Linked DNA regions of Homo sapiens. The protein of the gene in region 1 purifies or fractionates together with the protein of each later gene. This does not show direct contact. Each region holds a gene or a part of one and is shown in the gene's direction. Other genes may lie near its edges. The genes, in order: CPLX2, SNAP25, DHX16, PPFIBP1 and RAP1A.

Region 1 (4,072 bases):
CTGGTGGGGGGGTCTCCTGCTTTAAGGCCTCTGCTGTGATCGTGTGTGAAGGGATAAGTTCTCCCTCACTGGAACAAAATCACATTTCTGCAGCTCTTGTTGCCCCTTCCTTGGAAGGAAGCCATCCCCTTAGAAGGAGAAGCCATCTCCACTCTGACATACCTTGATGGATGTGAAACTCCTGCAGATCTTTCACAGGCCTTGTGCAAGGCCCCTCCTCTCCGAAGCCATTTTCCTACACATCGGGCTGGAGTAATTGGGAGCCGAAAGATGGCAGGCAGAATAAAAAGGCTCATTAGGTGAGAGTAATAAAACAAAACAAAACAAAACAAAAATGAGTGCAAGGGGAAGAGGAAAGGCTGGGGGTGGGAGCAGATGTTGTCCTGCCTCTTGGAAGTCCTTTTACTTTCTTGGGCATAGGAGGAAAAGAAATGGCCTTCTAGAATAAATTTTGCCAGAGGAGTCCTTATTCTTCACAGGATATCAGATCTCAAAGGGATTGGCGAGTGGCTTGCCTAAGGTCCACTGCAGTTTTGCATCAGTCTTCTCTTTCTGGGTGCGCAGTGGAGGTTCCTGACCCACTGCGAGGGTCTTGCCCACACGCTCCATCAGTGTTTCCTGAGTGCTCCTGTGGCTGGACACTGTGCTGGGGGGCTGCAAAGATGACCTGGCCAAGGTCCAGTCCTGGAGCTGCTCACAGGCAAGAGGCAAACCAACAGGTGGAACGGGGGTCGCTGAGGCAAGGGCTTGTCTGGGAGTGGCAGGAGCCGCAAGAAGTGCAACCACTCTGCCTGGAGAAACCAAGGAGGGCTTTCCCAAGGAGGTGAACTTTGAGCTTTGCTTTAAAGAACCCTTCCTCCACCCCTTGCCCCCACCACTCCTCAGGAGCAGCAAGCTTGTGGGCCTGGAGCTGTGGCCAGGATGTCTGGTTGCAGGGAGGCGGCAGGGGCGTCTGCGAGGGGGAGGAGAACAGTGTAAGGTGGAGGAGAGAGGGGAGGGGAGCGAGAAAAGAGGGGGAGGAATGGAGGGAGAAGGAGACGGGAGGGAGGGAGAGAGGGAGAGAAGGAGGGGACGAGGGGGGAGGGAGGGAGAGAAAGAGAGAGAGGAGAGAGAGAGAGAGAGAGAGACAGAGAGAGAGAGAGAGAGAGAGAGAGAGAGAGAGAGAGAGAGAGAGAGAGAGATTTGAATTTCCCATCTGGAAGGGGAGCGGTAGAACGTCAGGGCCCGGCTGAGGGGCGTGATTGGAGGGCGCCTTCGGCAGCCGCCCGCGGCAGAAGCCGCGGCTCCAGCTCGCCTGGCGGAATTGCACGCGGCGGCGGGAGCTGGAATAGCAGAAGGAACCACCTCGTGGAGTCGGGCCGGAGCCCTGCAGTGGCTCAGACGGTTGCAGGGACCGCCAGGTCGGTGCTGGCCGAGGGCCGGGAGGGCGGAGCTGGGCTGTGGGCAACAGGGTCCCGGCTCTCGCCTCGAGGCCTTGGGGCAGCTCGGGAAGCTGGGGAGCACGGCTTTCGGGGGGACAGCTCCCCAAGGCTGCCTGGGCACCGGATGGGGACTGAGAGGCGGTAAAGGGGACACTCCCGGGTGCGCTCTCCGTGGTGCTGAAAGGACAGCTCCTTGCGAGGGGCCGCGAGCAGGCAGCTAGCTGCGAACTAAGAGGAAGCGTGGGCCCTAGCCGGAGACTCCGGGCAGAGCCCGAACGGCCGGGGTCCCGGAGCCAGGACCGCCCCGGCTGCGGCGGAGACTCAAGTCTGAACCCAGAGAACAACTTTGAGCTCGCGGGAGTGGGGGACGTCGATCTAAGCTACTTCTGGCTGTGCTTAACCCGAAGCCCGCCGGAGCACGCTTCGCCCCGGAGGAGGGAGTCGCCCCCAGGGGTACAGTGCGCACTCCCGGAGTGAGTCAGAGGGCGGCGGCAGGGGGGCGGACAGACCGCAGGTGGAGGGGAGGAGAACGTAGACATTGACAGGGGATGGGGGACCAAGGGGACTATTTGTCCCTTTCCGGGAGGAGCCGCCGCTTGGACAGCGCACGCCCGCCGCCTGGAGTCTTCGGGAACGACCCCTTCTGTGCTCTCGTTCTCGTCGGCCTCAATCTGCCCCCTTCCCCAGCAAAGTTTGAAACCGGGCCGGGTCTTGGGGTTGGAGCTATGTGTGTTGGGGGAAGGGGCGCTCTCCGTGGCCCACCGGGAGATCCAGGACAGAGCTGCTGGGGGTGTGGGTCTCCGCGGGGGTCCGGGAGAGGGGCGCCGGGGTTCCTGTCCTCTCTTCTGGCCGGGAAACGGGAACCCCCGGCCACTTCCGCTTTTCAGCCGGAGTCGGCTCCCTACCTCCTCCCATCCTCCGCTGCCCCTCCCCTCCCCCATGCGTCTCCCATCCCGGGCCACGGGGTGGGGACGGGGCGGGGGGAGGGGGTGGAGTGACATCCCCTGTCTCTGCCACTGCCTTTGGCGTAGTCCCCTGCCAGAAGCAAATGAGTGTTGAATTGAGTTGCGGTGAATATAGCCCAGACTTGAATCATAAAAACAGAAAAACGGCCATAAGGACAACCACTGCAGGTTACCCGAGTCAGCCTGTCAGATGGCGGGGCCCAGTCCCGAAAACCTCTAGGGGCTCAGATGGTCGAGCCTGAGTCGGTGCTTGGGCTGGGACGGGCTCGGAGGGAGTCGGAGAGGGGAAGGAAGCTGAAGGCGCGCCCTGGGTCCCCGGCGCACTGAAGGTACGGAAACCTGGTGCTACGACGGCATCCCTCGCCGCCCCCGGCCTCCCCTCCCCCAGCGCAGCATCCCCCACCCACCCCCACTCCCACCCACCCCCACCCTCACCCCCCTTCCCGCGCAGGGATAGACCAAGGCTTCCCGCAGAATCGCTAAGGAGCGCCTCCTGGCGGCCTGGCCCAAATCCTCAACTGCCGGCAACCTGCTGGACCTCAGCACTCCCGCAGGCATATGGCAAAACATACACACACACACACCCTGCACACACGCACGCACTCACACGATGTCTAAGTCCAGAGTTGCACACACGGGGTCATACTTTCAACGCACACACCCTCATGCACTCGTTGACACGTTAAATTCAACCCGGCACACACGTCCTCAGGATCTACCATGTACCAGGACATGTAGCCAATTCTGGGGACAGGAGAAATGAAACAAGATACTGGTCCTGTCCTGAGAGGAGCTCAGAGTAACCAGGAAGGGCAAGACAAAGAAAGACAAACAGACAAAGAGAGCATGTACTGGAGGCAGGCAATACTGCCCCCAGAAAGTGCCACAGGTCTCCAAAGGGGAAGATGCCCTCACATCTTGCCAAGGAGATCCGTGAAATTGCATGGAGGGAGTGCTGTTTGAGAGAGATCTTCAGAAATCAATGCTGCTGATGATGATAATGATGACTGCGATGATGTTAGATAATATGTACCTACTTTGTGCCAACACTGGGCTGAGCACTTTATTTGCATCACCTCATTCAATGCTCACTACAAGCCTTGGGAATAGGTGTTGTTGTCTCCATTTCATAGATGAGAAAACATTGAGTCATTTGCTCAAGGTTACTTAGTAAGTGATGGAGCCAGGATTTGAACTGGCAGAGATGAGGGTAAGAGGTTCCAAGGCTGTGGGAATAGCATGCACAAATGCCCAGGCATTCTCAGAAAGATTATCTGTTGGGAAATAATACGTGCTAAGCAGAGCCCTGTGCAAGAGGTGGCACACGAGCAGCAAGGAAGACGGGTGCTAGACTGTGCAGGCCTTGAAGGTCAGCACAAGGACTCGTATCAGTTTAACAAGGCCATGGGGAGCCATTGCAGGGTGTGTATGCATGAGAAAATCTGCCCTTTAGGAAGATTAATTGGATGGCCACGTGGAGGCTGGATGAGAGCTGAGGGAGAGACAGTTAGAGGTTATGGATAAATCCAGAATCTCTAGGTCCTGAACCAAGGCATTAGCAGCAGTCACAGAGTGGAGGGTGGGGATGTAGGCAGCATTGCAAAGCTACAGCGTCTGGACTTCTCCCTGGAATTCTCCCTCGGCACCCCCATCCCAATCTTAACTCACCAATTCCTTGCATGATCT
Region 2 (3,530 bases), on another chromosome or scaffold:
TTCTTTAGCAGTCCTCACATTCTTCTATCAGTGAGAAAACACAGCATTTGAGAGCTAAGACTTTGAGTTCTAACAGGGTTTTGCCATTCACCAGCTCTGTGACCTGATTGCCTCACCTGAAGGATAGTAAGAGAACTGTTCAAACCTAGGATCAGAACAGGCTGGAAGTATGAACTGGGTTCTAAAAGTCACCTGGCATGGTCTGAAGTTGAAGAGATTCCCGGAGCGTTCAGAAGATGGGCTGAACAGCTCCTTCTAAACTTTTACTGGCTCTTTGGTGGTCATCCTGGCCTTCTCACAAGGACAAACATGTAACATATGTTGGGCACTCCAGCAAATTTAGAATTTTCTAAATAGAAATATAAAAATTGGAATGGGACAGCCATCATAAATAAAGTCCTACAGCATATAAGTAGGGTGATCATAGGGGCATTCTCCAAATACCAGGAAGACATCTACAAGGAGATTCCAGACTTTTTTTTTTTTTTAAAAGAAGCTAATTCTTTTATATAATAAAGGGGCAGTACTTTCTGTGTCAAATATTGCATGGGGTGGAATTTTCATATGCTTCAGAAGTAAGTTAGGTGGAAATCACAGATGCTCATTGAACATAAGTCTGTTTCAGCTCCTCCCAGATCCTTTAAGGATATACAGAGTAACCTCATGCTCTACTTCAAATATCCCCAGGTGAAGGCCCCTCAGTGCATTCTTGTACAGGAGATCCTAGAATGTTTGCGCTCAGGAATGCCATCATTTTAAAATGAATTATTTTTCTCATTTGAGCTTTTCAGAGCATTTAGTCTGGCAACATAATAATTCAATCTACAGGAACATTTCACATTGCTCTGATCCTGTAACTTTCCTTTGCACTGAAGTGTCATTATTTCTGATACCATTTGTAGCTGGAAAGGGAGGGCTTAAGAACCAAGTAAAATTGGTGAGATTATCCATTTTCCAATTGAGAAACCTGAGGTCAAAAATGTGAGTCTGTAGTTCAAAACAATCAAAATCAATGCCCTATCTTACTATGTAAATACTGATTTTAAAAGACAAGTGTCAATTATCCAAACAGATGACAGAGAACCATTGCCAGGTATTCAAAGTTATGATTAATCTGGAAATATGTTTGTTTTAACTTTGCAAATTTCTATTTGAACATGGATAATTCTAATGTCCTGAGAATTCACGATATGAACTGAATACAGAAGACTCAGCTCAATAAAAATTGGGAAGTACAGCACCACAATAGGTACAAAGCTGGTAATCATTGAGTGATACTGGTTGAGAGAAAAACAGTTTGGTTTCCCCACACTGCCTGGCAGCCTCCTCCTCTTCTTCCCAGGCTGTAGAAGGATAGACAGCATTACCAGTCAGGGAAGGACAAAAGAAAAGCCTCCATAGAATCGTTGTCTTCACCTCTGGTTGCTGATGCATTTTTCTCAGTGGTGATGGGAATCATTCATTTTCTGGAATTTAAAGATTTATGCTGGTAGCAGCCCTAGGTTTCATGCTGCATATACAGCAAACATAACCCAAGCAGTAAAGAGATCAACCAAGAGATTAAAGCCAGCCAGTTACAAAATCATAGTAAATGTGCATCTGTTAAAGAAAAGACAGTTATTAAACTCATAGAAATGAATCTTCAGAAATGCAACTTAAAAACTATTAAGCATCCCAGAAGCAAGCCAAGTTCTCATACGGTAACAATAATTGCAAGATAAACTAATGAGCCCTTCGTTTTGCAAAACATTATTCCAAGCACATTATGTGTATAAACTCATTTGATCTCAGCAAATTGAATAGTAAGTGATGAATAGTGTGGACTCTGACTCCAGGTTGCTAGCATTCAGACTCTGGTTTCTCCATTTATTAGTACTAAGACTTCAGACAAATTCCCCAGATCGTTTCTGACTGCTTTTCTCATTTGGAAAAGTGAGCTAATAATAGTACACACTTTATAGTTGATATTGTTAATCTTGATGTTGTCAAAGTTTAATGAGTGGAACAAAGTACAGTTGACCCTTGAACAACATGGAGATTTAGGGTGTCAACCCCCATGCAGCTGAAAATTTTTTGACTCCCCCAAAATTTAACTACTAGTAGCCTACTGTTGACTGGAAGCCTTAATGACATAAAAAGTCCATTAACATCTATGTTTTATGTATTATTTACTGTATTCGTATGATAAAGTAAGCTGGAGAAAAGAAAATGTTATTAAGAAAATCATAAGGAAGATAAAATACATTTATAATACTATGCTGTATTTATTGATACCATCAGTTTATATCATTTGTTTACAAGATGAATCATCAGTCTGAAATCTTCAGTACACATTAAGCAATTCAACTTTTTCTTGAAATGTCGTGACTTTTTTTTGCTTTTTGGGAGCACTGCTAGCATCACTGGTGGCACTTTGTATGGGTGCATGATGTTATTCAAGGTTTACAGTATTGCACTAAACATGATTTTTTTTAAATGTGAAACTGCAAGAGATCACTTTTTACTGCACTATGCAATTTACTGGAGAGATGGTGAGGATGATTAGTATCACAGAGCATTTTAAACGGATGCTCACAACACTTGAGTTCACCACAATAATAGGAGGTGGCTATGAAATTATTAGAGTAGTACAGTATGGACTACAGTTAATTTTATACAATTATGATTTAATACTTCACCTTTACATTTCTCTCAACTGCAAATAGGCCCATGTATGGTCTATATTTGTTTAAGTCTCATCAATTTTAACTTTTCATAGTAGATTTATATGTATTTTATGATAGTAAATAATAGACTAGACTAGTATCTACATATATTTTATCCATTCATGACATGCCTAATTTTTTCTAAATTTTCTCAATATTTCTAAGTAACACATTCATCTGCAAGTTTGTCTTAATTGTTGCAAATCTCCAAAGCATTTTCCAGTGTATTTATTGAAAAAAAATCCTGGCCAGGTACAATGGCACATGCCTGTAATCTCAGCATTTTGGGAGGCTGAGGAGGGAGGACTGCTTGAGCCCAGGAGTTTGAGACCAGCCTGGGCAACATAGTGAGATCTCATCTATACAAAAAATAGAAAAATTAGCCAGGCATGGTGGCATGCACCTGTGGTCTTAGCTATTTAGGAGGCTGAGATGGGAGGCTCAGTTGAGCCCAGGCAGTCAAGGGTGCAATGAGCTATGATCACACCGCTGTTCCCCAGCCTGGGCATCAGAGCAAGACCCTGTCTCAAAAAAAAGGAAGAAAGAAATTCACACAAAAGTGGATCCACACCATTCAAACCCATGATGTCCAAGGGTCCACTGTACATGCTCATGCTCATTAGCAATATTTTTTATCATCCAGGTTGGAGAAGAGAAAGCTGAGCCCCCAAGATGTAATTTGTTCAAAGGGACACTGCTAATAAATTAGCCATGGTTTCAATCCTACAGTATAAGAAGTGTAATTCAACTTGGTCCAACAGATGTGAATGCCTACCACAGAAGTCATTGAGTGTCTTTCTAGGATAGAAAGATAAATCATATATA
Region 3 (3,530 bases), on another chromosome or scaffold:
CTGTACAGGGATGTGCTGACCATTCAGCTTAGGCACACCATCTCCAAATACCTTCCCACCACCTAATTCCTGCACCCCTTATGTGGCTTTGTGATCTCCCTGTGTCTTCTCACTGGACAGGGACAGAGCCCTTGTAATTCATAAACTGGACTTTTTATGGTGTGAAACTAGGTAGGGTAAGCTGTTTTCCAAAGGCCTGGTCTTGTCAAGTAAAGTCACACTTAGATTCCCCAATACCCCAATAGAATTTTGAGACTCTTGAAGTTCCTTTTTTTTTTTTTTTTTTTTTTTAAACCTTTTTTCTTTTTTTTGAAACGGGGTCTTGCCCTGTCACCGAGGCTGGAGTGCAATGATGCGATCTCGGCTCACTGCAACCTCCGCCTCCTGAGTAGCTGGGATTACAGGCGCACACCACCACGCCTGGCTAATTTTTTGTACCTTTAGTAGAGACGGGGTTTCACCATGTTGGCCAGGGTGGTCTCGAACCCCTGACCTTGTGATCCACCTGCTTTGGCCTCCCAGAGAGCTGGAATTACAGGCGTGAGCCACCATGCCCAGCCTTCTTTTTATTTGTTTTGTTTTATTTTTTATTTTTATTTATTTATTTTTGAGATGGAGTCTCACTCTGTTGCCAGGCTGGAGTGTGGTGGTGCGATCTCAGCTCACTACAACCTGTGCCTCCCTGGTGGAGGAATCAAGCGATTCTCCTGCCTCAGCCTCCTGAGTAGCTGGGACTACAGGCCTGCAGTACCACACTCGGCTAATTTTTTGTATTTTTAGTAGAGGAGATTTCATCATGTTGGCCAGGATGGTCTTGATCTCTTGACCTTGTGATCTGCCCGCCTTGGCCTCCCAAAGTGTTGGGATTATAGGCATGAGCCACTACGCCTGGCCGTTTTTACTTTTTAAAATTCATTTATTTATTTTTTTGAAACAGAGTTTTGCACTTGTTGCTCAGGCTGAAGTGCAGTGGCGTGATCTTGGCTCACTGCAACTTCCACCTCCCGAGTTCAAGCGATTCTCCTGCCTCAGCCTCCAGAGTAGCTGGGATTACAGGCATGAGCCACCTCGCCTGGCTAATTTTGTATTTTTAGTAGAGATGGGGTTTCTCCATGTTGGTCAGGCTGGTCTTGAACTCCTGACCTCAGGTGATCCACCTGCCTCGGCCTCCCAAAGTGCTGGGATTATAGGCGTGAGTCACCACGTGCCCGGCCAACTTTTGGAGTTCTAAGAATGGCCTACTGGTTCCCAGGTCTCTCCTGACCAATTTATCTCATATCTCTTCCTGAAATTGACTGTGGTTAGGCTTCTGGGACATCTCAGTGCAGTTGTGGTGGTAGTGGTGTTACTGTTTTGGCCTGAATTTAATTTTTCGGGTTTTTTTTGAGACAGAATCTCATTCTGTCGCCCAGGCTGGAGTGCAGTGGCATGATCTCGGCTCACTGCAACCTCCGCCTCCCGGGTTCAAGTGATTCTCCTGCCTCAACCTCCCGAGCAGCTGGGACTACAGACATGCACTAGCATGCCTGGCTGATTTTTGTATGTTTAGTAGAGATAGGGTTTCACCATGTTGGCCAGTCTGATCTCAAACTCCTGACCTTTGGCGATCCACCCCCCTCGGTCTCCCAAAATGTTAAGATTACAGGCGTGAGCCACTGTGCCCAGCTGTAATTTTTCTTTTTCGATTACAAAAATATTTAAGCACATAGGGAAGTTGAAAGAATAGAACAAAGAACACTCATAGACACTATTCAGATTGAAAAATGGTTAATACTATGGGTAGTATTTGCATTGTAATTGTAAATGTGGTATGTTTTTTCTTTTCAGACCATTTAAAAGAGTCTTAGACATCATGGCGTTTTATCTCTAAGTACATCAGTGTGTACCTGCTAAGGATAAAGATATTGTCCTCTAAAATCAGAATGCTCTTGTCACAGTCAGGAAGTTGAACAGTAATTCTTATGTATCGACTAAGATCTCTCTACAATAAAAGATACCCTCATTACCCTCAAAATAACTTTAATGACTGCTTTTTCCTAACAAGAATGCAGTCAAGGTTCATGCATTGCATTTGGGTCTTAGATGTTAAGTTTGTTTCTCTCTCTGTCTGTCTCACCTTGCAGTGTCCTACATTCTGGATTTGCCTGATTCTTATCTTGTGGTGTTAAGTACTTCTCTGCCCTGTGCTTTCTTTGAAGCAGGAATTGGGTCTAAAGCTTATTGACACTCAGATTAAACAGTTGTGGCAGGAACACTTCTTGGGCGGTGATGTGCACTTCATATTATGTCATATCACGGGGACATACTATCCAGTTGTGTATCTATATATTAGTATTAATATCCTTTCTACCAATAGCCTTTCATCAAATGCTTTTAGAAGCCACTGGTAATCCTTTCCTGAACATGTTATTTTTATTGGGGATTGCAAAATGGTGATTTTTTTTTTTTTTTTTTGAGACAGAGTCTCGCTCTGTCGCCCAGGCTGGAGTGCAACGGTGCGATCTCGGCTCACTGCAAGCTCTGCCTTCCGGGTTCATGCCATTCTCCTGCCTCAGCCTCCTGAGCAGCTAGAACTACAGGCGCCTGCTGCCACGCCCGGCTAATTTTTTGTATTTTTAGTAGAGATGGGGTCTCACCATGTTAGCCAGGATGGTCTCGATCTCCTGACTTCGTGATCCTCTTGCCTCAGCCTCCCAAAGTGCTGGGATTACAGGCGTGAGCCACCGCGCCCGGCCGAAATGGTGATTTTTTGATTCTGTCATTCCTGTTACGTGTATTGGCTAGAATTTGTCTATAAAGAAGAGCTTTTCCTCAACAACTAGGAACAAGCTACAGTTCCTTCTTAAAAAGGGTAAATGTTTGTTTCCTTTTAAATACGAATTTTTAGAGTAAGGCGTTTGCTGTAACAGTCATTTCACTGGTGACAGATTTTTTTCCCTTGTTTTTTGTTTGTGTGTGTCAAATTGGACTCATGAATTTTTATTTTTCAGTATTTTATAATCTCACATCATTATTCTTTTTAATGCTCAAATGGCTCTGATTTTTTGCCCATATTAAAAAAAAAATCTATCTGGCTCTTCCATGGAAGGAATATTTGACTGTGGTACCCAGATTAGGTCATGATCATAAACTGCATTTTAAGTCTTTACAGAACAAACAAGAAAAGCCAAACAACTAAATAGAACCAGGCCCCTTAAGGGTAGAACAGCAGAGGGGCTTTTTTTTTAAAGATGCAGTTTTGTTCTTGTTGCTCAGGCTGGAGTGCAATGGCGTGAGCTAAGCTCACTGCAACCTCCGTCTCCCGGGTTCAAATGATTCTCCTGCCTCAGCCTCCCGAGTAGCTGGGATTACAGGTGCCCACTACCATGCCCAGCTAATTTTTGTATTTTCAGTAGAGACGGGATTTCACCATGTTGGCCAGGCTGGTCTCTAACTCCTGACCTTAGGTGATCCACCCACCTCAGCCTTTCAAAGTGCTGGGATTACAGGTGTGAGTCACCACGCCCACCCAGCCACCAGAGGGGCTTTGA
Region 4 (3,530 bases), on another chromosome or scaffold:
AAGTTTCTTTCAGTCCAACTGAGTTTCCTGTTTGGGAATCCAATCTTCAAACAACATTGGTTAAAACTGATACAGTGACTTGTGTTTGTCCAATTTGGTCTTTTTCTGTAGCACTTGTTCTTGCTCTATCACGTTAAATCTTTTGTGGTTTCATTTGAAATGAAGACAGTGGTCTTAGAAGATAACTTTCAACCAGTTGTTCCTCCAATGTATACTAAAAATTAAGCTTTTCATGGTCAAATGTGTATCACCAGGGAATTTCCATGTCTATTGAATGTATAGTTGTTTAAAACTAATGATAAGCCACAGGATTGGCTTTGGATTATTTTTCATGCAATTACTCATTTTCCTGTAGTGACTTGGATATGCCATTTGCCAAGTGGACCAAGGAGCAGGTTTGCAATTGGCTGATGGAACAGGGCTTGGGCTCGTACCTGAATTCTGGCAAGCACTGGATTGCATCTGGCCAAACGCTTTTGCAGGCTTCTCAACAAGATCTAGAGAAGGTGACTGCTTCTCTGTTTTGTTCACACAATGGATACTGAGAAGAAAACAGTATGAATGTAGGGTTGTTTTATAGTCCAGAAAGGGCCATGAGTGAAGCCAGTAAAAACTCTGTAAACAAAAGTTTGGGTTTTCAATTGCTTCATGCTTCTTTTTTCTGGTGGTCTTGGGAGGACCTGGTCTTGATGATTCCTTATGGAACACTTAAGCCATTGGGCATTTTAATGAAAAAGAATTACATAAGCATAATTCAGTTCATATTTCTCGAAATCATTGTTTGGCTTTATCATTGGCCTGTTTTTCTCAGTGTAAGATATGCAATTAACTTCACTTTGCAAAAGAAAAAAAAAAAGCACCCTACAATTTGTGTCTAATTATTTAACATTTCTTCCAAATTATTTAATATTTTGTACAAAATAAGAGTCAAATTCTTTTTATGCATGCTACAGTTCCTAGCTTACAAAGAAAATGAGTCACTAGGGAATGCCTAACACACCCCTAAGATAATTGTGGTGGTCTTGGCTTTTCAGGGACCTTTTGTTCAACAACACTTTACTAGCCCAAGTTGGGATTGTAATTCAGTATTGAATTGGGTCTTTAATGCTAGCTTCATTTTGGAGAAATTTGCATCCTTTGCCAGTGGCACCCAGCCTATACAGATAGAATTATAAAGTCAATGTTTATTGTTTCAGGAACTTGGAATCAAGCATTCACTTCATCGAAAGAAACTCCAGCTAGCACTCCAAGCCCTGGGATCTGAAGAAGAAACCAATCATGGGAAGCTGGATTTCAACTGGGTCACTAGTAAGAAGTTTTTATTCTAACAAAATGAAATAATTATATACATAGTTGCTTTTTCTTTTTAATCACAAGAACAGATGTTTTGTGGCATGGTAGCAACACTGGCCTCTCTCTTTTAGGATGGTTGGATGACATTGGCCTCCCTCAATATAAGACCCAGTTTGATGAAGGACGGGTTGATGGTCGAATGCTACATTACATGACTGTTGTAAGTGACTCACTCCTGGGGTTTGGGGGAGGAAAACTTTTTTTCTCTGAAAAACACAGGAATTGAGTAAGCCAAACACAGTGTTTTCAGTGATTCCACCAGAGTTTGAAGCTGTTGCTTGAACTTGAGGAGAGTGGCAGGCATATTTCCCATGAGGCTGAAGTTGTAGCATTTGGTGATTGTGATTGAACAGGCTTGGGATAATTTGAAACCCCAATGTAAGCTAAGTGAAGCCTAATTTAAACTAAGCTCTCCAGAAGGTTGATTTTATATGTAATACATTCAACAAAGTAAACACTGAAGTGTACACTTTGAATGGGTACATTTTATGGTATGCAAATTATATCTCATAAAGATTTTTTTTGTATTATTTCTTTTGAGATGGAGTCTCGCTCTGTCACCCAGGCTGGAGTGCAATGACGTGATCTCAGCTCACTGTAACCTCTACCTCCCAGGTTCAAGCCATTCTCCTGCCTCAGCCTCCCGAGTAGCTGGGATTACAGGCTCACGCCACCATACCCAGCTAATTTTTTTGTATTTTTAGTAGAGACGGAGTTTCGCCATGTTGGCCAGCTGGTCTCAAACTCCTGACCTCAAGCGACCTGCCTGCCTCGGCCTCCCAAAGTGCTGGAATTATAGGCATGAGTCAACACGCCCAGCCTAAAGATATTTTTTAAATAGAATGTAGAATTTTTAAGCCCAAGCTATCTCTAAGTTATGGGTTTCTATGTGCAATGACCATTTGGAAGAGGCCACCCTTTTGACCTGACATCTTCAAGGACTTGTCTTCTCCTTTCCACTCTGGACAACTGTTACCTGAAACCCTATCACCCGTCTCACTTCAGCCTAGTTCTGCTACAGCAGGAGTTACTGGGGTTAAAGGAGGAGGGAGGAAGGCTAGACTTCTACTCTGGTTCCTTCATTATTGTACATTTCTAGCCCTCCAGCCAATGTGTAGGACTATTCCCTGCTTTACAGCAGTGAGAAAGATGGATTCCAGGAGAACTTTGTTTTAGGTTCCATACCACTATTAATGTTCTACTTAAAATTCTCTTTATTTATTTATTTTTATTTTTATTTTTATTTTATTTTATTTTATTTTGAGACGGAGTCTCGCTCTGTCGCCCAGGCTGGAGTGCAGTGGTGCGATCTCGGCTCACTGCAACCTCCCTCTCCTGGGTTCATGCCATTCTCCTGCCTCAGCCTCCCAAGTAGCTGGGACTACAGGCACCTGCCACCATGCCTGGCTAATTTTTTGTATTTTTAATAGAGACGGGGTTTCACCATGTTAGCCAGGATGGTCTCGATCTCCTGACCTCGTTATCCACCCACCTTGGCCTCCCAAAGTGCTGGGATTACAGGCGTGAGCCACCGAGCCTGGCCTTGTTCTACTTAAAATTCTTTTATTTATTTATTTATTTTGGAGACAGAGTCTCACTCTGCTGCCCAGGCTGGAGCGCAGTGGCACAATCTTGGCTCATGGCAACCTCCACCTCCCAGGTTCAAGTGATTCTCCTGCCTCAGCCACCCGAGTAGCTGGGATTACAGGTGCACACCACTGCTCCTGGCTAATTTTTGTGTTTTTGGTGGAGATGGAGTTTCGCCATGTTGGCCAGGCTGGTCTGGAACTTCTGACCTCAGGAGATCCACCTGCCTCGGCCTCCCAAAGTGCTGGGATTACAGGCGTGAGCCACTGTGCCCGGCCTAAAATTCTTTTATTTAAACAGCTTTTTGTGAAGTAGGCTATAGACCTAACTACCCTAAGTATAATCTTTTTCAAGTAAGTAGCAAGTTTTAAACAGCCAACTTAAGTAGGCATTTCTCAATGTCAAAAAAATTTGGAGTTCAGTTCATGGATTTTTCTTCTCTGTCATTGAACCCAAGCCCCTTACCTTGATGAGCACATCACATAAACCTGCGTGAAATAATACTAATATGTGTAGTATGTTGCACATTTGCTATGTGTCAAACATCCTTTTAAGCATTTTGCTCATATTAATACTGGATTCTCAATAAC
Region 5 (3,500 bases), on another chromosome or scaffold:
CTTCAACTTCGTTACAACCTGTAGTCCATTTATCCTAACATCTTTTTATTATCCCTTATATCTTCAACCCCCTCTGCATATAGCTTCAGGTCCACGGTCCATCATTTATAATTCTCTTGAATATATCCTCAACTCCCTTGACTTTTCAGCAGCCTTTGACTCAGTTTATCATTGCTTTCTAATGTAAAACCTTTATTCATTTGGCTTCCAAGAAACAATACTTGCCTGATTTCCTCTGTCTCATTGGTTACTCCTAAGTCTCCTTTCCTAATTCCTCTTTATCTCCCCTACCTCTTAATGTTGGAGGACCTCAGGGTTCAATACTTGCACTTCTCTTTCCTAACAACACTGCTTTGGAGATCTTGTAGTTGCTTGGTTTTAAATACAATCTGTATGCTGATAAATACTAACTTTGTAACCCTGTCTGTATTAGGCCGTTTGCATTATTGTAAAGAAATACCTGAGGCTGGATAATTTATGAAGAAAAGAGGTTTAATTGGCTCATGGTTCTGCAGGCTATACAAGCATAGCTCCAGCATCTGCTTCTGGTGAACACCTCAGGAAGCTTACAATCATAGTGAAAGGCAAAGAGGAGTAGGTGTTTTACATGGCAAGAGCAAAGAGTGAGCGGGAGATGCCACACACTTTTAAACAACCAGATCTCACGAGAACTCATAATTGTGAGGATAGCACCAAGCTATTCATGAGGGATCCACCTCCATGACCCAAATACCTCCCACAGGCCTCACCTCCAACACTGGGGATTACATTTCAGCATAAGGTTTGGAGGTGACAAACATCCAAACAATATCCCTATCTCTCATTTCTTTTCTGAACTTCGAGCTCTTATATCTAACTGCCTCTTCAATATCTCTTTTTGTATGTCTTATAAGCATCTCAAATATAACATGTCCAAACTGAACTCCTGATAACCTTTCCCTGACCTGGGTCTTTCCAGTCTTTCCCATCTCAGTAAATAGTACCTTTTTAGTTGGTTATGCCTGAAACCATGGAGTCGTCCTTGACTGTATTTTTTGTTATATTATGTGTACATCCAAACTCTCAGAAAACCCTACTGGCTTTACCTTAAAAACTTACCCAGAACTCAGCTACCACCACTAGAATCTAATGACACTATCTTGGTCTAAACAGTTGTCATCTCTCAGCTGGATTATTTCAATAACCTCAAAACTGATCTCCCTGCTTCTCTTCTTCACCCCCTTCAGATTGTTCTCCACACAGTAACCATCATAATTCCATTTAAATGTAAGTCAGATCATGTTTTCCTCAGCTTAAATTATGCATTAAACTCAGAGTAAAAGCCCAGGTCTTTATTACATTTCCCTGAAAGGTCCAAATGAGAATCCTCTCTCTTTGTCCCTTCTCTGGCCCCCACTGCTATACTCACCCACTAGGTAACAATGTTTCAATGAATCCAGCCTCCTTACAGCTTCTCATACACTTTAGACATGTTTCCCTTTGGGGCCTTTGCATTTGCTCTTTCCTGTGCTTGGGGTAGTCTTCCTCCACATAACCATAGAGCTTATTCCCTCACCTCCCTCACATGGTTGCTCAAATGTTACCCGTGAGGCCTTCCCTGAGCATAGTCTTTTAAAATATAACTTTATATTCCTACCCTCAAAATAAACTCCCAACCTTTACTTTTCTCTATAACATTTATTACCATCTTGCATACTTGATTTTTGTCTGTCTCCATGTATACTCCTCCAGGGCAGAAATTTTTGCCTCTCATGATCACTAACATATCCATAGGGCTACAACTATGTCAGTGGATATTTGTTGTGAATGGATGAAACTTGTAGAATGTCCTTAAGAAGGAGGTTGGCATTCTCAATAGGAGGGAACACCAACCACAGCAGTTCTGTAAGGACTTTTCTTAAACTGGATTTTCAGAACTCAGGTTGCCTGTATGTTTATTCTTTTGATTTAATAAGAAGCAGAGACCATGATCTCTAGAGAACATCATAGAAATAGTGTTGCTAGTATTTGTAGCACTTAACATTTGTAAGTAAACTCATTTATTATATAAACATTTGGACAGTGGCAGAATTTAATTGGTTACCATAGTGGTGCAATTCTGGAATATGCAAACTTTATCAATGAAAAATCCAGGAAACTTCCAGTTTTTACATCTTTCCCAGAAAATACACTGGCAGCAGTATAGGAAGCTCAGCCATGTTCCTGTGGCACACCTTAGACGAATTTGAAGCTGGGGAAATGGCTGAGTGGTAGCATAGCTAACTCCCTGGAATACAAGAAAGAGTACATCAGCCAGGGTAGAACAACCAGAACTATTTTAGATGTAGTAGACAAAATAGAGGTAGTGGTCATGGGGAACAAGGAAGCCAAGGCACAACAAGCTTAAGAAACTTTGTGGATTTATCTTTTACGTTTAATGCATCCAGAGGTAAAAAGATCCAAACTGTATAGTTATTTAATATAAAGACCCAAGACATACACATTTTTAATATTCTGCCATATGTGCTTTTTAAGTAATATATATATATAATACCAAAACTTTTCTAAAAGAAGATTTTGTCTTATATTAACCTCCATAGTTACAACATAAAGTAATGATTGTCACCAAATAAAAGGAAGTTTAAAATTAAGTAATTTTAATTTGGCATGACTAAAGCTCAGTAACTAAATGTTAACCATTAGTAAATTTAACTAAAGGGGATAGATAGTCATTGCACTATTCTCACATCTTTTCTAAAGGTTTGGAATGAGGGGGAAAATGAAAATACATGAACAAGCTCTTTTTTTTTTTTTTCCGAGACAGAGTTTCACTCTTGTTGCCCAGGCTTGAGTGCAGTGGTGCGATGTTGGCTCACTGCAACCTCCACCTCCCGGGTTCAAGTGATTCTTCTTCCACCAAGTAGCTGGGACTACAGGTGTGCACCACTACGCCCGGCTAATGTTGTATTTTTAGTAGAGGCAGGGTTTCACTGTGTTGGCCAGGCTAGTCTTGAACTCCTGACCTGGGGTGATACACCTGCCTTGGCCTTCCAAAGTGTTGGTATTACAGGTGTGAGTCATTGCCCCTGACCATTAACAAGCTCTTATAAAGAGTTTATTGACTGTCAAGATGATAAAAATATTGCTATGCCATGGGAATAGAAAAAGAAAGATGATAAAATCTGCCAGTAGAGATATTGATTCTGGATGATGAAGTCATAGTTTAGTATTGGGCTTATACCTCAGATTGTTAGCACTTGGGCAGTAGTTGTGTCATAAATTTGCAAATAAAATTATTTAGGATCAAAAGATCTGTTTCTAAAAAATTATATACAGCTCTAAATCACACAAAAGCAAATTAAAGTGGTTAAGAATTCCTTTTTAATTCTAGTTTACTGTCATTGTTTCTAGTCACCTCAGTTGCTAGAAACTTGTGTTATGTCTTGTTTTCTGTCAGGATAGCAAGTAATAAAAAATGTTACTCACTTGTAATTATGCTGTTTTAAATTGTTGCAGTATAC

Evidence for each region.
Region 2: the proteins of CPLX2 (region 1) and SNAP25 purify together in Homo sapiens (co-immunoprecipitation; one study listed by IntAct). This does not show direct contact.
Region 3: the proteins of CPLX2 (region 1) and DHX16 purify together in Homo sapiens (affinity purification with mass spectrometry; one large-scale study listed by BioGRID and IntAct). This does not show direct contact.
Region 4: the proteins of CPLX2 (region 1) and PPFIBP1 purify together in Homo sapiens (affinity purification with mass spectrometry; one large-scale study listed by BioGRID and IntAct). This does not show direct contact.
Region 5: the proteins of CPLX2 (region 1) and RAP1A purify together in Homo sapiens (affinity purification with mass spectrometry; 2 studies listed by BioGRID and IntAct, with this or other methods). This does not show direct contact.

The regions. Positions count from the first base shown.
Region 1 is NC_000005.10:175,870,306-175,874,377, forward strand, and holds the start of CPLX2 (complexin-2), read left to right. Parts: upstream 1-1,272; 5' UTR 1,273-1,400; exon of another isoform or gene 1,401-1,894; intron 1,895-2,461; exon of another isoform or gene 2,462-2,715; intron 2,716-4,072. UniProt on the Homo sapiens protein: Negatively regulates the formation of synaptic vesicle clustering at active zone to the presynaptic membrane in postmitotic neurons.
Region 2 is NC_000020.11:10,302,309-10,305,838, forward strand, and holds part of SNAP25 (synaptosomal-associated protein 25), read left to right. Parts: intron 1-3,530.
Region 3 is NC_000006.12:30,666,506-30,670,035, reverse strand, and holds part of DHX16 (pre-mRNA-splicing factor ATP-dependent RNA helicase DHX16), read left to right. Parts: intron 1-2,708; exon of another isoform or gene 2,709-2,851; intron 2,852-3,222; exon of another isoform or gene 3,223-3,530. UniProt on the Homo sapiens protein: Required for pre-mRNA splicing as a component of the spliceosome. Contributes to pre-mRNA splicing after spliceosome formation and prior to the first transesterification reaction.
Region 4 is NC_000012.12:27,681,191-27,684,720, forward strand, and holds part of PPFIBP1 (liprin-beta-1), read left to right. Parts: intron 1-355; coding exon 356-506; intron 507-1,196; coding exon 1,197-1,308; intron 1,309-1,424; coding exon 1,425-1,513; intron 1,514-3,530. UniProt on the Homo sapiens protein: May regulate the disassembly of focal adhesions. Did not bind receptor-like tyrosine phosphatases type 2A.
Region 5 is NC_000001.11:111,699,789-111,703,288, forward strand, and holds part of RAP1A (ras-related protein Rap-1A precursor), read left to right. Parts: intron 1-3,500. UniProt on the Homo sapiens protein: Counteracts the mitogenic function of Ras, at least partly because it can interact with Ras GAPs and RAF in a competitive manner. Together with ITGB1BP1, regulates KRIT1 localization to microtubules and membranes.